4 separate regions of the Homo sapiens genome follow, and all the other regions are linked to region 1. The links come from fine-mapping of genetic effects on gene expression. A gene starts in region 1. Each other region holds a variant in brackets. All regions are shown on one strand. Distances are between the middles of the regions.

Region 1 (5,153 bases):
GGAGGAATGGAAATTTACCTTCAGAGAAAAGCTGACAGCACTTGTTGTGGCCTCAACTATCCTCCCAAAATTTATATGATGAAGCCCTAACCCCCAGGACCTTAGAATGTGACTGCATTTAGAAGCAGGACCTTTAAAAATGTGATTAAGTTAAAATGAACCCCTTAGGGTAGGCCTTAATCCTCTCTGACTGCTGTCCTTATAAGAAGAGGACATTTGCACATGCCAAGAGACACCAGGAATGCACACACAGAGGAAAGACCATGTGAGAACTCAGTGAGAAGGTGGCCATCCACAAGCCAAGGACAGAGACCTCAGGAGAAAACAAACCTTCCAACACCTTGATCTTGGACTTTTAACCTCCAGAACTGGGAGAAAATTAAGTTCTGTTGTTTAAGCCCGGGGCCCCCAACTCCCGGGCCATGGACCAGTACTGGTCTGTGGTCTGTTAGGAACCAGGCCACACAGCAGGGACAGAGAGAGCACGAAGCTTCATCCATATTTACAGCTGCTCCCAATCATTCACATTACCACCTGAGCTCCACCTCCTGTCAGATCAGCAGCAGCATTAGATTCTCATAGGAGCACAAACCCTATTGTGAACTGCGCATGTGAGGGGTCTAGTTTGCATGCTCCTTATGAGAATCTAATGCCTGATGATCTGTCACTGGTTCCCATCACCCCCATATGGGACTGTCTAATTGGAGGAAAACAAGTTTAGGGCTCCCACTGATTCTACACTGTGGTGAATTGTGTAATTATTTCATTATATATTACAATGTAATAATAATATAAATAAGGTTCTCAATAAATGTAATGCACTTGAATCATCCTGAAACCATCCCTACCCTGGTCTGTGGAAAAAAGTGTCATCTACAAAACTGGTCTCTGGTACCAAAAAAATTGGGGACTGCTGGTTTAAGCCCCTCAGTCTGTGATATTTTGTCATGGCAGTCCCAGCAAACTAATACGGCACTGCTTAGATGCCAGGGAACTAAGGAAGGAGTCTTATTAGGCAACCAGCTTCAAGGGACCAGCAACTCAGAGATCCCCAAAGATGAGAAATAATGGTGCTCTCTGAAGTATCCACAAGATTGTGCCTAGAGAGAAAGAACTAGGTTTACACACCCACCAGAACCTGCCACTGAAATGCCAGCTTGCCACAGCATTAACCAAGTACGGACTTCCAGCTCCTTTCCTGCCTCTTCTCTTTTCCCCTTCCCCCTGCCAGGAGTCAGAATCATCAGTAAGCCAGAGGAGAGAAGGATGGAAGCTTAACGTGGGAAATGAGAAGCCAACCACAGACCCCCTTTCCAAGCTGCAGGCCCCACTGGAGGAGGGAGAAAAGTCTCCACTGGGAACCAAATTCAAAGATCTGGCTGATTCCCTGGGACTGGACATCCCAATTGCTGAATGAGGCTGTGCTGGAACTAAAAGCGACTTAAGAACTTTTGATTCCTGAAGGGGGCCCATAAGAGTTGTGGACCTACCTTAATTTTCATCCCAGGGCAAGGGAAGAGGGAGGACCTGCTGAAAAAAATTAGGGACAATGATAGGCAAAAATAAAGTTTGCTTCCATAATATACCATGAGTCCTGTGTATTTGACGTATGTTCTCTTACATATGAGGCAACTTAGCCTGGTCTCTGGCCAAAAAAGAGATACCACTCATTGAGCAATTCTTACCCTTTCAAATTCCTTCACTGTCGTCATTGAGCAATTCCATCTTCTTCAAGCAAGACAAAAGCTGATGCCAATAGAAAAATCATTTAAAATAAACAAACGAAAAAATTCCTTAAGCTGTCAACTTGGGTGCAGATGTTCTATGAAGCCAGAAACTGAATGTCACCCTCTATACACCATGACCTAGAGAAGCAGAATAACTCCAGACCAGCAGGGCTGGGCGGGTCTAAGATTCCCATACTACTTAAGAGAAAACTGAATTCAAATCCAGGCTCTGCCATTTAACAACTGTGTGACCCCGGGTGAATGACTTAAATTATCCGTACTTCAATTTCCTCATCCATAAAATAGAGATCATAAAGTATCTATCTGATGAAATAGCTGCAAAACAGTTAGAATGCTGCCTGGCACAGGGCAAAGGACTCACAATACACATAGCTATCATCATATATCATTGCCTCTCAAAGTGAAATATTGTGATGACCTTGGTTTATTAGCAGGATGTTGTAAAAAAAAATGCTTTACAAGGGGCATGATGACGAAAAGCGCAGATTCTAGAACCCGACTCCCTGGGTTTGAAAGAAGCAAGAATCTGAGGCATGTTGTATAAGGGTTTGCTATCATTACTATTCATTCAATGAGAGACATACAGTAATAGGTATACATATGCAATACATAGAGAAAGAGCTTAGTACTAGCAGCTATTATTAAGGCAACAGCCACCTCAGTAAATCTACATGGGCCATGAAGACCCTGGTCACCCAGAGATATCAGAGGCACTGAACAGGGCCAGACAGACAGAGGGTATTTTTCTAACTGGGAGGCTGCTGAACTTGACCTCTGTTGCTTTTCATTATTTATTTAACAGCAGATGGTGGCTTTCAAGAAAATCGGATGTCTTGAAGCCAGAAACCCATCCTCCTTGGGCTGGATACTCAGCCATCCCCTGCAACCCCACCCCCTAGCCCCAAGCTCTCATTGTCTCTCTTGTGTTACCTGGTCTGGTTTCTTCTTCCAGGGCAGGTCCCACCTTGCTGGGGAGAGGTGAATGACCATGGCCTTCCAGCCTCCCGAGAAGGGGATGTTCCAACGGGCGCAGAGATCTCTGGGCCTGGCTTGCCACTCACTGACCTGGGGCCTGAAGACTGACAGAGAAGCAGGCAGAAAATATAAAAAGCTGATACCCCCTGCAGGAAATCATTGTTTAGCCCATTCCAGACTAAAAAAACAAGTGCAACATTGGAGAAAGGAGGGTAAAGTGTCATTCGGGGCCATTGTTACAGCGGCTGCTCTGTGTGGTGGGGAAACAAAGCAGGCCTGTGTATGTGAGGACAATGCTGTTGTGTTACTAGCTGCTTCTGTGTTACTCCTGGGGACAGGAGGATGAGAAACGAGGCCACAGTGTCTTCCCTGGTGGACTTCACTCATCATAGTAGCCAGGCCAATCAGAGCTGGGAGAGGAATTTTGGACATTTAGCCCATGGCATTATGTAATAAGGGTCAGGGGACGTGCCTTCAGGTGTGACCACCTGCCTCTTTGTTAGTCTTCTATACATGAGAGATCACAAATGTCCCTCTCCTTTTCTCTTACTTGCTTTCAGAAACTTACCCCAAGTTAGAGCTGAAAAGAATGAGACATATCATTTCTCTAAACACAAATGTCATCCACTTCAATGCCTAACTTTTGTGATGGGACATCTGGCTGGGACTAAACCTCAGCCATGCAGCACGTTAGCAGCAGTTGGCAAGACTAGATGAATATTATAAAGCTTGCACCCACTGAACCCCCATAATGAACCAGACACTAGGTCATGAGCAACCTTGCAAAATGACCTCATTCGCTCCTGACTTCAAATTCTGACTCTGCAACTATTACCCATGGACTGTGAGCAAGTGTTTTCTCTGGGTGTTAGTTTTCCCATCTGTAAACCGGGATTATGATTGGGTTCCTAGGAGGATTAAATGAATTAATATATGCAAAACTCTTAGAACAGTGGCTGGCCCATAAAAGTGATCAAGAACCACAAATCACAAATTAGATGCCCACATTACACCTGAAACTTGCTTGTACTCATGAGGAGATGGTATGGGGATGGCTGGAAAGCCAGGATCCCAAGTGTCTGTATTTAGCCCTGTTACCTACTATGGCCTAAGTTCACCCTGTTAGGTCCCTGAAGGAATTGGGCACTAATAAATATTCTCAAGTATGAGACAGGTGACAAATGTGTGGAGAGGGCCCACTGTGATGCAACAGTGTGTGGCGGGAACTGTGGGGATTTGAAAGCTCACACCAGTCTTCAGAGGGCAGCCAGGGCTCAGCCTCAGCCAAATACTGCAATGCAGAAAGGTGGAAACAGCATGGTTGGGCCTGCACATTTTTAAAGAAAAGCCAGAAGGCTGGATTTTTTATGTCGAGTTTTCCAATTTTGAAACACTGTGGACCAAACACAACATTGTTAATGCAATGTGAGCCCTAGATCATGCAGTTTGTGATGCCTGATCTGGAAATTTCCAGATTTCCAGCATTTCCAAGCCAGTGCAACCCTGCTGACACTCAGAGCTTTTGTCCCCAACTTGCGCTACGGTCTGAGTGTATGCGTCCCCCACAAATTCATATGCTGAAATCTTCACCCCCAGGTGATGGTATTTGGAGGTGGGACCTATGGGGGGTGATTAGGTCATGAGTGTGGAGCCCTCATGAATGGGATTAGTGCCCTTATAAAGAGGCCCAAGAGAGCTCCCTTGCCCACAGCCACCATTTGAGGACACAGTGAGAAGACACCATCTGTGAACCAGGAAACCGTCCTCATCAAACATAGAATCTGCCAATGCCTTGGTCTTGGACTTCCCAGCCTCCAGAACTATGAGCAACACATTTCTGTTGTTGATAAAGCCACCCAGTTTATGGTATTTTGTTATATTAGCCCATATGGACTAAGACGACTGGTGAGCTGATCAGGCCACGTCAAAGCCACAAAGGGGGCATAAAGTCAAAAAGATTGATCAGCCCTTTCCCCCTGCAACCCACCCTCATCTCTGGACTGAGACAAAGGTGAGGAAAAGGGAAACTAGGGGAATAACAGGAGGGTGGCAAGGGCTCTCCTTAAAGGACTGCAGGACCCTGGGCCTAATCCACCTCCTGCAGGCATTCCTCTGACAAAGAAGGCAGCCAGGACTTAGTAGTGAAACCAAAGGGGAGAATAGGAGTTTATTTAAGCTTCCATAACCTTCATCAGTTACCTCAAATGAACCAAAGTAGCGTAAGTGACAAAATGTGTTTGCTATGCAAATGCACCTTAAAAACAAGACTGCTCACAATGAGATACCACTTCATACCCGCTAAGATTGCTATAATCAAAAAGACAGAACCAGTTACAAAATGTGTTTGATATACCAATGCAACTTCAAAACAAGACGGCTCACAATGAGATACTACTTCATACCCACTAGGATCACTATAATCAAAAAGGC
Region 2 (5,153 bases), 110 kb before region 1:
ACCTTCCCCCCACCAAAAAAAGAGGAACTCAGAGTGGAGACCCCATTCATTAATTCTTTGAATCTTAGCCATTTACTGAAAACATAATGTTATGTGTTAGACATGGTTCTGGATGCTAGAAGAAAAGGATGAAACAGAGCTCAATGATTTCTCCTGGGCCCTATGAGAGAGTGATCTGGGCCACTCTCTTATAGGGCACAGGAGGTTCATCTTACCCAAAAGATGACAGTAAAAAATATCAAGGCATTAGACACCTAGGCCAAAATCACAATGGGACAATTCACCCTGTAGCCTGACTTACTTTTACCAATTTAATTTGTAAAGAACAAGAAAGAAGAGAAAAGCTGGAGAGAGACAGCCAAATTAAAGAGGCTGTGGTTTGTGGTTCCCTAGATGCAGGGAAGATGAAAATCCCGATTCCTAATACCTAGGCCATAAGCTCCTTTGAGGCTCAGGCCTAGAATCTGGCAGCCTTCCTTCCGCTTTTCCCACTCTATCCTAGGGTTGCTGCCCTGTCAACAGAAAAGCAATTACTTGTTAGAACAAACAATCATCATCATCATAACGAATAATAAACAAATTGCTCCTAGGATGGAACCCGGCATTTTTTTCTCCAATTAAAGTTTATTGAGCACTTGCTGGGTGCTGGACACCACTGTCAACAATGTAGGCGTTCCCACATTTAAGCCTAAAACAGAACTGTAAGCAGCAATAATATCCTCAATTTTAATATACAAGGAAACTGACCCAAGCAAGCACAGGCCAGAGATAACAAGTGTCTTGTTGAGATCAGGGAGCCCAGAGCTGCCTGGCTCTGCATCCTGGCAGCCACTTAGTAGCTGTTGTTAGCAATGACCCGGGAAAATTCACTGATTCTTCATACTTCAGTTTCCTCACCTAGAATGTGGGGAGGATAAGGATACCTACTTCACAGGATTACTGCACAAGTAAAATGGGTTAATCCTCATCAAATTGCTAGAACGCTGCCTGGCCCACAGCAAGGCTTGGCAAGCATGAGCTACTATGATTTCACCCAGGACTCTGAAGCCCTGGGTCTTGAAAACTCCAGCCCACTGCTTCTCGCATCTTCCTACAAGTATAGCCACACTAGCATTTCCTACACTGGGATTGAGGACCCAGGAGAAATTCATAAAGCAGGTAATATGTTAGGTAGGGCCAGACTAGCTGATGAAAGGATAAGAAGGTAGGAAGGTGGAGGCAGAGCTTTGGAGAAAAGAATTGCCGGGACGTGTAACTGACATGAAAGCAACCCCTCAGCCTCAGCAGCCCCCATATGCCATCTGTTTCACATATTGGACTTCCATGCCTGGTTTCATTTGAAAACAGAATTCTGCTGCTACCAACCACCACCACAAGCCACTGAGCTAGAAAAAGGGAAGCCGGGAGCTGAGGGTAATGTGAAGGGGACACTTACACGGGGCCTGACCAAAATGAGAAACTGGGCGTGAAGTTCAGCCAGAAGCCAAAAGGAGCCATAACAGGGGGAAAAAATGGGGAAGCACTGACTGGTCTACATTATCTCACCCTTTCTCCCTCCCAGGCTGACCAGCTGAGACACCACCCCAGTTGACAGGATTTCCTGTTATTACACAGACCTGCGATCTCACGCCTCACCGTCTTGTCAACTCAACTTCCCACTTCTGTGGGCTTAAAGGTAAAGGAGGCATTACTAAAAGCTGGAATCAAGCTGGTGGAGAGGCGCAGGGACAGCAGGATGGCAGCAGAGTGGGCAAGCGCGGAAGTGACAGAGGGAAATCACCTCGGATGGAGTCAGTCTGCCTTGCACACAGAGAAAGACCCAAGGTGGCAAAATCCCGCTGCTTGTCCCAACTCTCTTCCCACATGAGGTTAAAGACGATGAGGCAGCTTGCAAGAAGTGCTGCAGGTTAGCCAAGATGAGTTGGAATAACCATATCAGTAGTTAATATTTCTGCGCCATCTGGCAAGTAGGGTTTGCCCCAAGTTCTCTGGCCCTGCACCCTGGCCCTTTGGTGAGATCCGCCCAGACCGCCTCAAGATCCAGGAACAGCAGGGGTCCTCCAGAGTCCTGTGCCCAGTGCTGTAGCTGGTCAGTGCCCATCTAGCCTGACTGCTGAATGCTCTGAAATCACCCACCTCACTTCTGCAATAGGATATGTTTCAAGGAGGCAGCTTCTCTTAAGCAGGAACAGATAGAAAGGCCCCCTCCCCTTCTCTGGTCCATTCCATGGGAGCCCATGGGAGGTGGTGTCCTTGACTCAGGACATGGAGTACTCACACCCTTCGGGTGTCGGCATCCTAGTGGGTGGCAGTGGGAATAGTGAGAAACATGGAGGAAACTGACGAAGAGCATTTATTGAGCTCCTAGTTATGTGGCACACTATGCTC[G/A]GCAGTCTGCACACAGAATCTCAAATTCTCCAACAGCCTCACAGGTAGGAGTGTATCCTCATTTTGCAGATAAGATCGATGCTCAGAGCTTTGCCAGGGGCCATACATTGGTAGATCCCAACTCAAATGGAGGCCAACCTAATCAGGCAGTGGTACCCCCCATGCCACAGGGGCAGGCAGGCAAAGAAGGGAGGCAAGTGAGTGTGTACTGTAAGGACCAAGAAAGTCCCTCTAAAGCCAGCAGCCAGGCCTCAGCTCCCCTGACAGGCTCCACACCAGACCGTGAGTCCAGTGCCCAGATCTGACCTTTCCAGAGAGGCCGGAAACCTGGAGTTCTAGGTGAGATGTCCAGATTTCTAAACAACTTTTAGGCCAAACCACATGCGCCAACCCCATGGGTTTCCAATCTGCCATTTCTAACAACCCTTCTTAACCTGAAAGCCAAGTCTGTTTCTCAGCCACAGCAGGTACAAGGTAGTAACACATCATCAGGCAGAGTCACCCAGACCAAGAAGAGCCCTCATCTTAATCCCTCCAAAACTAGGCTCCTCAGAAGGGCAATGCCCCCCTTACCTCATGATCTATTCATGAACCTATGTCCAGGTACATCAAGCCCAAATCTGGATAATGCCAGCTCTGTGTGGCTCTTGCAGCCCACTTACTAAGGGTTTAAGCATGTGGGAGGCTTGGGTTCAAATCCCAGCTCAGGCACTTACTGGCTACATGACTCTGGGTGAGTTATTCCACCTCTCTGTATCTGTACTTCCTCCTTGTAAGACAGGGATACAGTATCTATCTCACAGGGTGTGGGGAGTTTTAAAAGAGTTGACACATATGAAGCACTTGGAACCTGGCATATACTAAAAGGCTAAGCAAGTGTCTGCAGTTATCATTACCTCGTGGCATCAGGCCTGGGACTGGTCTATGGCATCAGCCTGTGAGCTGGATCCAGGCTCACCTTCCTCCCGTCCCCTCCCAGCTCTTCCCCCCTACTGTGGGTCCCCCTCTCTTACAGTCAACACTCTGTTAAAGAGATGGAAAAATCGGAGGTGGATTTCCCTTTGGGTTTCAGGCAACCAACTGACTCAGAAGGAAGATATTTCAACTCAGACCTGTCAGAGATCAAACACAATTCTTGGAACCTCCTCTTTCCTTGAAAATCTCTGGGGTTTTCTTCACACCACCTCCCCCCTCCCAACAAGAACAGAAGCAGGGTGGTTGGAGAGAGAAGGAAAATGTGCGTTTCCTGTCTCAGGCCGGCTGCAGATAACTGATCTCTGGTTTCCGGAAACTTCATCTCTGAGCATTTATTTCTGCCGAGAAAAAGTCCTCCCAGGGAGTTTGAGGAGGCAGGAGGGCATGGAGTGAGTGGTGGTGGCAAGAACGTTAGATCCTCAACTGCCCTTTCTGCCTGCTCCCACTTCTGATTTCAACTTGGATATCATTTTCTCCTAGGTCTAATTGTGTGCCCATCCTCCACATGCCCCCAGCACTCCAGATTCCACCATCACCCCTCTAAAAGCGTTGCCTGAGAACTACCTGCCCAGTTCCTCTCTCATTCTGCTGTAAGATCTCCAAGACACAAACCACCTACTCAATGACCACCCCAGTATACAGCCCAGTACTGGGCAGAGCACTCCACATTTATTCAATAAATAAATCAATGAATCAATGGCCCCTGCTTCGACACACACACCCCAACACTCAAAGACTGAAAGCACTTATAAGAACATTGGCAAGCAGGTTCTTCAAAGAACCAGCAAACATCAGTCTTGCTTTTTTCACACTTTTCTAATTCTTCTCGGTTACATAAAATCAGTGGGAGAGGTGGCAGAAAAGACTGTTTAGGGAGAGTGTGCTCTTGTGTCAGCTTAGCTGCTCTTGTTCTTGGAAGGGCTCATGAAACCCAAACCTCTAACCCAGACTTTTCCTCGCTGCCAAAATGCAGCCACATCAGGGGTGAGGCTGGAGAGGGGTGTTAAAAACCGCACTAACACCCCATTGAGAATTCAAAACAAGAAGACTCCCAGAATCAGCCCGAACTCTGGCAGATGGAAATTTAGGGAAGCCAGAATTGTTGATTGGGATGCCTGGGGATTTAGCTAGAATACGTCTATTCTGAAAGGTCATTTTCTTGCCTTGAGAGATATTACAATGTGCAAGCTGTGCCTAAGGCAGTTTCAATGGGAAATATTCTGATTTATGGTTTTCATATCAATAGACCATGTGCCCTGACTTTTACATGGGACAACATTGGCCGCTATATTGAGGTGAGACGTTTCTGATGGATTTTTTTTTTTTTTGAGACAAATTCTCTCTCTGTCCCCCAGGCTGGAGTGCAGTGTGGCACGATCTTGGCTCACTGCAACCTCTGTCTCCCAGGTTCAAGCGATTCTCCTGCCTCAGCCTCCCAAAAATAGCTGGCTGGGATTACAGGCGCACACCACCACACCTGGCTAATTTTTGTATTTTTAGTAGAGTCAGGGTTTTGCCATGCTGGCCAGGCTGGTCTCAAACTCCTGACCTCAGGTGATCCACCTGCCTTGGCCTCTCAAAGTTCTGGGACTACGGGGTGAGCCACCGCACCTGGCCTGACAGATTTATTCTTAAAGGGTGGAGAAACCTGTCTTTGGATCCAATACTGTGTTTTAGAATTTGACCATCCTCAGTCCCAAGTTCTTCCTCATAATTACTTCAAAGTCTATCTGCTAACATTTAAACTAGAGTCTATTTTCAAAGACATGTCTTAAATGGAAAGGCCACTT
Region 3 (5,153 bases), 92 kb before region 1:
GAAGATGCTGCACTTAGTGGAAAATGCAAATGAATTCCACTAGGGCTCCAACCTTTGACTCTGAAAAGGGAAGTAGAATCATGGCCCAACAACTTAAAATAAAGAAGTGGGTGGCTTATAATAACTCTGAGGCTTCCAGGAAAAAGCCATTCTGAGTGTAAGTAACAAAGAAGTCAAAGAAAACAGCCATGCCATCTGATGTGCCTGCCTGGAAAACAAGGAGAAACTAGTTACCACGGAAACAAGAGAGATGGCCTCTTTTACACACAACCCTCGGAAGCTTCTGCAGTCAGAAAGCCCAGCGTGCAAATCCTTCCCTGGACCATGAACACAGGAATGACCCAATGTCCTTCCACACCACCAGGATTTAGATAATGATCGGTCAAACTCAACTGATCCATTCTCTAATTGCAGTCAGAATGGTCTTTCTAATGACAACCTTGATGATCATGATAGCACCATTTACTGACTGCCAACTGTGAGGCGGGCACTTGACATGTATTATCTCAGCATTTTAAAAATGAACTTAGAGGGTCTTGACTTTTAGTGAAATGGAATAGAAAATATCGGAGTGCATCACATTTGGAGAAAATAAATTTATTCATGATTACTGGGTTAAAATGCCTCATTTATTTCATACCTCATATGGCACTCAAAACTACATGAAAGCACCTGTTTGGAAGCACCTGTGTCTGATCTTACAACCACCAGAAGGCAGGTGCTATTACCAGCCCCAGCTTACAGAAAGGCAAATGGAGGTACAGAGTGTTTAACTTGTCTCAGGTAACACATCTCATGAGAAACGATGCTGGAACTAGAACCCAACAGTCCATAGCCCACAACGCTTATGTCACTCTTTGCTGCGATGCCTTCAACTGTTCCCCACAAGTCTTAGAATAAATTCACAAACTCCATCCTCACAGGCTCACTTCTCACCACTCTGAAGTCTGCTCATTGGCCTGCCTTCATGTCTTCCACCAGCACCTGCTCTGCCCCACCTCAGGACCCTTCCATGTGCTGTGGCCTCTATGTGAAATATTTCCCACCCAACTCTCCAGGTTCAAACCTGCACCCCCTTTATAGCCCACCTTCACTTGCTCAGAGACACCCTCCTTTCTCCTCACCCCTGATTAGGTTCCACCACCCCAGAGAGCACCCTCCCCACCTCCTTTGTCGTCTTGTCATAATCTGCCTTAATAAATGACTACAGAATTATTTGTTATAGGTTTGTGAGGCCCATAAGGGCAGGCACTGTCTGTCATGTTCTCAGGTACATCCCCAGGGCTTAGCACAGGGCCTAGTGAAGCAGGAATTCCACAGATATTCTCTGAATGAGTAAATGAGCCAGCTGTGTGTGAGGCATCATTGCTGAGAGACAGGAACCATAAGCAGGTGTCGGCTCAGAACATCAACATTTAAAATTACATGGGCATTTTGGGAGGCCAAGGCGGGTGGATCACCTGAGCTCAGGAGTTCGAGACCAGCCTGGCCAACATGGCGAAACCCCCGTCTCTACCAAAAATACAAAACTAGCCAGGTATGGTGGCGGGCGCCTGTAATCCCAGCTACTCAGGGGGCTGAGGCAGGAGAATTGCTTGAACCCAGAAGGCGGAGGTTGCAGTGAGCCGAGGTCGTGCCATTGCACTCCAGCCTGGGTGACAAGAGCAAAACTCTACCAAAAAAAAAAAAAAAAATACATGGGGCTTCACCATGGGTAAACACCATGGTACTGAAATCTGACTAACTTGGCTTCAAATCCAGCCTCTACAGCTTATTAGCTGGATGACCTGCGTATGTTCCTCATAGGCTCTGAATTTCAGTGTCCTTGTCTGTCAAATGGTTGTAATGCTTATGTGCACGTTGTTAAGATGAAAATGAGATAACCTAGATCACGGCCTCGCCCTGAGTAGGGGCGCAAAAAGCTATAGTTAGTATTAATATTTTTATACAACATTGTGTTCTTCACAAAACCCTCTTAGGCTTTGCAAGGTGATGGGTGGTGGGGTTGAGGGAGACAGGCACTTGAACGCATGGCTGGAGGGAGAGCAGTCTGAATTGACTGCTGTGGAAGGAAATGTGACAAGATCTACCGAAGTGACAAAGGCCATACCCTCTGACCAACAAATGTATTTCCAAGAATTTTATTCAAGGCACGTCAAGTGGCTTATGTAACATGGGTTTTTACTGCAGCCTTCTTTATAACAACAATGAGCTGGAAATAAGTGCTCACCAACAGGGAACTGGCCATATGTAAACTATGGTGTCCCATATACTGGAAGGTGATGCAGCTCTAAGAAAGAGCCGACCTTGAGCCGATCGTGGTGGCTTACGCCTGTAATCCCAGCACTTTGGGAGGCCGAGGCAGGCAGATCACGAGGTCAGGAGATCCAGACCATCCTAGCTAACACGGTGAAACCCCGTCTCTACTAAAAATACAAAAAAATCAGCCGGGCTTGGTGGCGGGCGCCTGTAGTCCCAGCTACTCCGGAGGCTGAGGCAGGAGAATGGCGTGAATCCGGGAGGCGGAGCTTGCAGTGAGCCGAGATCGCGCCACTGCATTCCAGCCTGGGCGACAGAGCGAGACTCCGTCTCAAAAAAAAAAAAAAAAAAGAAAGAAAGAGCCGACCTTGAATGAAAGAAAGGCTAAACACAGAGCCACGTGTACATTATGCTACCATCTATGTAAAAAGGATTAAAAAGAGCATTTACCCTTTTCACTGCATGTGCGTAAAATGTCTCTGGAAGGGCAAACCAGCAACAGATAACACTGGTTTCCCCTAGGGCAAGGAGCTGGGTAGCAGCGACACAGTAGGGAAGTCTTTTCTCTATAAGCCCTTTTGGACTTTTTGAATTCAGAAACATGAAAATGCCTTACTTCTTCAAATAAATAAATGTAAAGGCAATAGTGA[C/G]TCCCCTAACCTCCTTTCCCCAAAAGGAAGACAACAAATAAAGGTCATATGATTTCTTCAAAGTCACCCAGCTGTTAGGAGGAAGTCAGGATTCAGCTTCTGATCCCAAGTTGGGCTCTAGCAATGACAGTTCATTCATTTGACACCAATTTTATTTATTCAGCATTTATTTCACAATAGGAGTGACCCTGTGCAGGAACATATGGGCTAGCAAATAAACACTGGCAGGAAAAGTAGATGAAAGGAAGAACCAATTTCTTTTCTTTTTTCTGCGCTATGCATCATAAATGGGCCGAAAGGGCCAGGCTGGGACCAGTTTAGGGAGTGAGGCAGGTGTGGACAGTAAGCTTGCTTTACTACCAGCACCTGCCCTGGCTAAAGGAGGCAGCCATTACTCAATCCGATCTGGTGTTTGCCATCTTAGGATATAAGCCTGGTTTTGCCAGATCTGATTTTTCCCAAGAAAGTCCAAAAATCCAAATTTTTAGAAATGTGAAATCACTGGATTTGTAAGTGTTGGCAACTAATTCACCAGGCCAACCAGCACTTTGAAGGCCAAACATGTAGGTTTGTGACCTTTATTCTACCCCATCACAGCTACAGCCTCCAGCCTTCTCAGACCTTTTATGTGGAGCCTAAGCCAGGTATAAGGTAAGCCTGCACTAATCAGTCCCTGTGGCCTTGGGCAAGTCACTTCACTTCTCTGGGTCTGCTGACTCACCATTCAATTAATGGTTTGGCCCAGCTGATGGCCACGATGATCTTTCACCATCTCTGGCTGTGCATTCAGCCCCTACCCTGGGAGCCATACACACTGAGAACCTTTGAGAGAGGAGGCAGGGGCTGATACCCTAACACAATACAAACTCAGAACCATCCCTCAGCCATGTTTGAACTCCCACCTACCACATCATCTAATTCACCAGCCTCTTAACTTGGCAGCTGTCTTATCTCACTGTCAGCCCATCACCGATTTCTTTTTTTTTATACTTTAAGTTCTAGGGTACATGTGCACAACGTGCAGGTTTGTTACATATGTATACATGTGCCATGTTGGTGTGCTACACCCATTAACTCATCGTTTACATTAGGTACATCTCCTAATGCTATCCTTCCTCCTCCCCACACTCCACGACAGGCCCCGGTGTGTGGTGTTCCCCACCCTGTGTCCAAGTGTTCTCATTGTTCAATTCCCACCTATGAATGAGAACATGCAGCCCATCACCGATTTCTCTATGAAGTCTTATGTATGACATACTCCCCTATGTATTATATACACACCCAGATACAGGGTAAGCCAGCAGCACCCAAGGTACTGCTAAAGGAAACACACAGAAGGCAGAACCCTCCAAGCCAGCATAGGAGACTAGATCTGGACCCCACGCCTGCCCCTGCGCCAGCCCATTGGATGGAAACCAGGTCACAAGCAGATTTTCAAAAGTGGTGGGGCCATTTGGTCAAATCAATTGTCAACCATGACTATTTTATTACCATTATGACTGCTGATTAGAATAATATTAACTATCATCAGAGGCTGGCCATGATGGTCAGGACTGTGTCAAGCCTCCATTTGCATCTATTCCCTCAGTTAATTTCTACTCTAAACCAAGGAGGTAGGTTTCATTAGGCTCATTTTGCAGATGAAGAAACCGAAGCATAGGGATTCACTTGCCCAAAGGCAGAAGACTAGGAAGAGGAACCAAGAGGCAAATCCTGTGTGATTCCAGAGCCTGAACTCCTGACCCCTGTCTTAAACAATGCAAGTGTGTGCCACACACAGAGCCGAGAGATTAAACGCCACCCATTTCTTCCCTGCATAAACATCACCCATAGCTTCTTACCTTAGAGCAAGAGGACTCTGCCCCTCAAGCAAGGAGTCTCTGTTTCCTAGTGGCACCCACAGACCAGGCTGCAGTTGTTGTGTTTGTTTACTTGTTCAGTGTCTGATGAGCCCTGACAGAATGGAAGCTCCTTAAAGGCAAAAATCTTGCCCGTCTTGTTCACTATTGTATCCTGGTGCCTAGCATAGTACTGAGCACATAAAAGGTACCCAATAAATATTTTTATTTTATTTATTTTTAACGTATTTTTAATTAGTTTTACTTTTTTTTTCTAAGACAAGGTCTCGCTCTGTCACCCAGGCTGGAGTATGGTGGCACAATCACAGCCCACTGCAGCCTTGACCTCCTGGCTCAAGCAATCCTCCCACCTCAGCCTCCTGAGTAGCTAGGACTACAGGTGTGT
Region 4 (5,153 bases), 66 kb before region 1:
AATTGCCCGACGTCACACCTTTAACAAGCAGGAAAGTCAGGACTCAAACACGGGAGAGCTGAGCTCTTCCACACCTGGACAGACTGCCAAGCTTCCTGCTGACTAACACACAGCCAGCCTCTAGGAGCTGGCTTGAGGTCCTGGCTACACTTGCTAAGGATGTTAGCTTTGGGCAGCTTGTAGCTTGTATAATCAAAACTGCTGTGTTTATATGGCACTTTTTTTGAGTTTGTAATAATGCAATAGGTAAAATTTACTGAGCACTTACTAAGCTAAGCACCAGGCACTATTCTAAGAACTTTACAAAGCTCATTCTCCATGACCATCCTAAGAAATAGGTGCAATTATAACCTACCTTACAGATGAAGACACCGAAGAGCAGAGGGGTGAGGTGACTTAACCTCTAATTAAGTGGTGGAGTCAGGACTTGAACTGAGGCAATTTGATCCCCAAATCTCTGCATTTAACCTCTTTACTAAATTCATTCCCTCTATCTAATGACAGACCTCACGAGAGAAGGAAAGGACAAAGGCAAGTCCCATTCACAGTTGGATAGTTAAATATGTGTATTAATTTAACCCCCAAAAATGTTTACTATGCATAGCTCTCAGCACATCACAAGTGTCAACTCATTAATTCTCCTAAAACATGAAACAACACTATGAGCCCAGTGCAATTATTATTATTTCCATTTCACAGATGAGGAAACTGAAGCACAGAGAGGTAAGTAACTTGCCCAAAGTCACACAGCAAATGGCAGAGCTGAAATTCACACCTGGACATTCTGCCCCCACTAGTCTGTGGGTTTAACCACCACAGAGTGCAGCCTGACAAGAACATGCAGGTGCCTTATTTAAAAGTGAAATACCCTCCCAAGACCAGTGGCTAAAAATGGTCTCTAAGAGGAAGGCAGAGCCATCTGTAGACCTGGAAATTAAACAGGGCCATGGAGCTTGAATGACTTAATCACTGTTCAATTTAGATTTCCTGGTTGAAAGGGTTCCTGTTCGTCCTACTGGAAATTAACAGCCGATTGCTTCTTGGCATTCTTGTGGGAGGGGTGGGCCATTTTCCTCTGGCCCAGCTGTTTCTGGAAGAGTAAGTGCCTTGCCAGTGTCAGGCAGGTACAGAAAGACTGGTAGGTAAAGGGGACCAGATCCCTTTGTCAAGTGAGCTTAGCAGAAATCAGTCAACTCCTGCTTTTTCTGCTGGTCTAGGAGCTGGGGCCCTTCCTCCACTCCTTGCAGGAAACCTGCCCGGGGGTTGATTCATCTCTCAAAGGCGGGTCAGGAGGAAGGGGAAAAGAAAAGACAAGAGTCAGGTCATTTATTATCAGAAGGGGCAAAAGAGCTTCTAAGGAAGCGGTGAGGAGCTGTAACCACAGCATCTGCAGAAAAGGCATTGAGCTATTAACAGTGAATTCTGCTTAGTACAGTCAATCTGTCCCCAGCTAATCTGGAAAGAAAGATATGAGCTCCCAGAGGTCAAGGAGTGATGTCTGCCCTCACACTTCGAAAGCACTCCAGGAATATATTTTAAATAACTTGTGTCATGAATGTAAGTTAACAGCAAAGAATTGGGCTTACTTTTCTCCTGGTCCATAAATATTTGCCTCTCTTTCTGTCTCCTGGTATGATGCAAAGAATGGTGTGTGGAATCTTGACCACAGCCTCATTCCCGGCCACTCTTTCCCTCTCACCTCATCCTATGCCCAGGCACACTGAGATGCCTGTGGTCTGGGAAAGGCAGTAGTTATTGCACACAGGTCGAGGGTGCAGAGACAAACCAGGCTCAGGCCTGGTCCAGTGACATAGCCATGTGAACCTGGGTGCACGACTTAACGTCTCTGGGCCTGGAGAACCTTGTTCTCTTTCTCCCCCTTAGAAATACCCACTTCCCCTGCAGGAGCCAGGTCAAAGGGCTGCCCTGCTCCTCCATCCCAGGCAGGCTGCCCAAGCACTCAGCACACACACCACCCCCCAGCCCCCACCCATGCAGCATTTGCCTCCTCTTGTTACAGTGATCAGTTTACCTGTCTGTCGCCACTCACAAATTATAAAATCAATGACAGCACATTATTTATCTTTGAATCCCCAATATCTAAGCAATTCCTGGGCTATAACAGAGAATCCATAAGACCTTTTATGGAAGGAAGGAGGAAAAGTGGAAGTGAGAAAGGAAAGATGGGTGGAGAGAAGAAGGGAGGACAGACATAATTGATTATGCTTTCAAACAGAAACAGCAGGCATGGTGTGAGAAGTGCTAGAAAAACATTCTTTCCCCAATATGTCAATTCTGCTTGCCCAGTGTCTAAAACGTCCTTTTTTGGAGATTTGTTCCTGGGGTAAAGATACTGTCTCCGGTTCTCCTTGTCATTGTTTCCCACCAACCACCGCCCCCGTCCGCCCACCCCCACCCCGCCAAGGGTGATGTGTGAAACTGTCAATAGCCCAGCACCTTAGCATTCACTTGCAAGATAGATTTTCTAAAGACAAGTGGGGAAAAGGCACGTCAGCACTTTGGTGCTAAAAGTGAAGGAATAGGGTCCTCAAAAAGGGAAGGGAGGGATCCGTTTCAGTGAGTCAGA[G/A]TCATAAGAATGAGAGCATGCGATTCCCATACCCACCCTGCCCTGCCCTCCCATCAGAAGCATTCTCCCTTGCCTACATCACTCGGAGCAAGTTCTGTTTTCAGGACGGAGCCGGTGACCGGTTCGCCAATGGAAGGCAGGAGTCTCTGGTGACTGCCTGCTGCTTCCGTGCTGACAGAATGTCTTTTTTTTTTTTTTTTGCCTTTTATGTACTCATTTGTTATTACTTCAGCACCCCCCGACTTTGAACTTGGTAAGGGAAAAGACTCTCTCTACTAGCATCCTCCAAACTGAAAGGACCCTCAGAGGTCACTTTATCCAACTGTGCCTCATGCTGGAATCGTCTGTATCACCTCTCCCAAGCCCCTCGAGGGAAGAGAGGCTCGCGATCTCTCTTTAACAGCCATTCCATTTTAGAAAACCACAAGAGTTAGATATAACCTAGAACCTGCTGCTCTAAAACAAAGGAGAAAAACAAGTAAAAACAAGTGACTTGTGTTAGGTCACACTTAGGAAAATTCTGCAGAAGTCCAAGGGTAATGAAAAAGGTTGTCTCTTTACCTCATTTTTTTCAGTAGACATTGATTTGCCCACATAAATGAACAAGTATAAGCAAACACACTATCGTTTGATCACATTCCCACAATGATTTCTTTCCTCTGGTAGAAACAGTAAATACCTAGAGATCAGTGACTCAAACTTTTTGAACTCAGTAACCCTTTAAAGTCTTAGAAATTATTATGAGCCTTAAAGTCTTTTGTTTTTATAAGTTATATCTGTTGATACTTAACATATTAGAAACTAAAACTGAGAAAATCCTTGGTTATTTATTAATCGATTTAAAAATAATTTTAAAAGCCATTACAAATTAACATAAGTAATGTATTTTTATGAAAAATAGCTATATTTTCCAAAAGCAAAAGGTATATATAGCAAGAAAAGTGGCTTTGTTTTTTATTTCTGCAAATCTCTTGAATATCTGGCCTAAGAGATCTGGATTCTCGTATCTGCTGTGCACTTAGTCTGTTGCAATACCAATGCCATGTCACCTCCGGAAAACTCCACTGTATACTTGTGTGAAAATCAGAGTAGAAAAGGCAAATAATATATTAATGTTGTTAGTCTTGTTAAAATAGTTTTGAGCTCATGGACCTCCTAAAAGGATCTCAAGCAACTAAGATGAGTTACATAGGTGGGGACCAGTGCAAAGTGAAAGTGCTGTTTCTTGTCCAAAAGTTATAAAGCATTTCAAGACAGCCACAGCAGAACATTGAACTGAGCTCTGAGCATGGGGCCCTGCGTGACTTCACAGTTCCTGCAGGCAACTTCAGGGGTCTCTGACCACATGTCGAGAACTGCTGCTGTAGAGTTATACTTGCTTCTTGAATCAAATGAGTGGCTTAAGACAATTAGTGTACACCAGGGTGATATCAAGTTAGGAGTGTGTGCATGTATGTGTGTTTGAGCTGCTGGATCACCAGGTGTAAGTGTTCTTGAGTAATAACATATACCTAACAAGATAAAAGCATGACTTACACAGATTTTCCCCCTGGGTGTATATCATAAAACCTTACCCTCTTATTCAGCCTATTATTCCACACTGACCCTAAACATACACACACACATGCATTTATGCATGCACACACATACGCCTTGAGCTGATGGCTTGCATGCATGTGGGTGTGTGTGTTACATGTGCGATGTTACATGTGCACATACCCCTTTGTGTTCCAAATGGCTGCACACCAGATAGTCAGATATTTGTCATGGTTTCCTGTTTTGGGTTTTTATTGGGTGACAGGCTTTGATCAGCAAAACTGACATCTCTCGTCCCCATTTTCCTGTTTGGTACCTTATACATAGTAGGCACTCTAAGCATTTGCTGAGTTATATTTTATAACTCTGGTGGTTAGAGAAAATTATGCTTATTAAATACTGTTAGCAACTGATGGTTAGCACATAGATATCCCATTTGATCCTCCTTCCTGAGAACTCAACACTTAGGGAGGTAACCATCCCACTAATAATAGGTAGACTTGTCCAGAGAAGAACAGTATGTCATTGTCATTCTACTAGACACAAGGTAGCAATATTTCATGATTCTCCTGAGATTCAGGCATGAATTTAGCTAATAAAGAACATAAGTTTTCTGTTTTGTGTGTCTGTGTGTGTGTGTGTGTGTGGGTGTGTGTGTATGTGTGTGTGTGTGTGTGTGTGTGTGTGTGACAGAGTCTCACTCTGTCGCCCAGGCTGGAGTGCAGTGGCATGATCTCGGCTCACTGCAACCTCTGCCTCCCAGGCTCAAGCAATTCTTATGTCTCAGACTTCCTAGTAGCTGGGACTACAGGCGCGCATCACCATGTCCAGCTGATTTTTGTATTTTTAGTAGAGATGGGGTTTTGCCCTGTTGGCCTTCAAACTCCTGACCTCAGGTGATCCACCCACCTCGGTCTCCCAAAGTGCTGGGATTACACGGGTGAGCCACTGCACTCGGCCAGGCTTCTGAAGTATTTAAAACAATGCCCTATAGTTTCTGTTATAGACCAGTCTGGATTTATCCCGTCTC

What was found. PIP is the estimated chance that this variant, and not a neighbour inherited with it, causes the effect. A credible set is the group of variants that fine-mapping cannot tell apart.
Region 2: its variant is fine-mapped to the expression of PRR5L in whole blood (INTERVAL, PIP 0.90).
Region 3: its variant is the best candidate, but not a certain one, in a credible set for the expression of PRR5L in whole blood (INTERVAL, PIP 0.51).
Region 4: its variant is the best candidate, but not a certain one, in a credible set for the expression of PRR5L in monocytes (Quach 2016, PIP 0.55).

The regions. Positions count from the first base shown.
Region 1 is chr11:36,293,964-36,299,116 of GRCh38, reverse strand. It overlaps PRR5L (proline rich 5 like), which reads right to left and starts at 2,829. Exons shown (of 9, transcript NM_001160167.2): 1 at 2,679-2,829.
Region 2 is chr11:36,407,820-36,412,972 of GRCh38, reverse strand. All of the region lies in intron 3 of PRR5L (proline rich 5 like), which reads right to left. Among named protein-coding and RNA genes, the nearest start is that of TRAF6, 100 kb to the left of the region's middle. RefSeq lists an enhancer at 1,440-1,734. The variant G/A (reference allele first, on the strand shown) is at 2,389.
Region 3 is chr11:36,386,156-36,391,308 of GRCh38, reverse strand. The region is part of intron 1 of PRR5L (proline rich 5 like); the gene reads right to left. Among named protein-coding and RNA genes, the nearest start is that of PRR5L, 92 kb to the right of the region's middle. The variant C/G (reference allele first, on the strand shown) is at 2,910.
Region 4 is chr11:36,359,693-36,364,845 of GRCh38, reverse strand. The region is part of intron 1 of PRR5L (proline rich 5 like); the gene reads right to left. Among named protein-coding and RNA genes, the nearest start is that of PRR5L, 66 kb to the right of the region's middle. The variant G/A (reference allele first, on the strand shown) is at 2,588.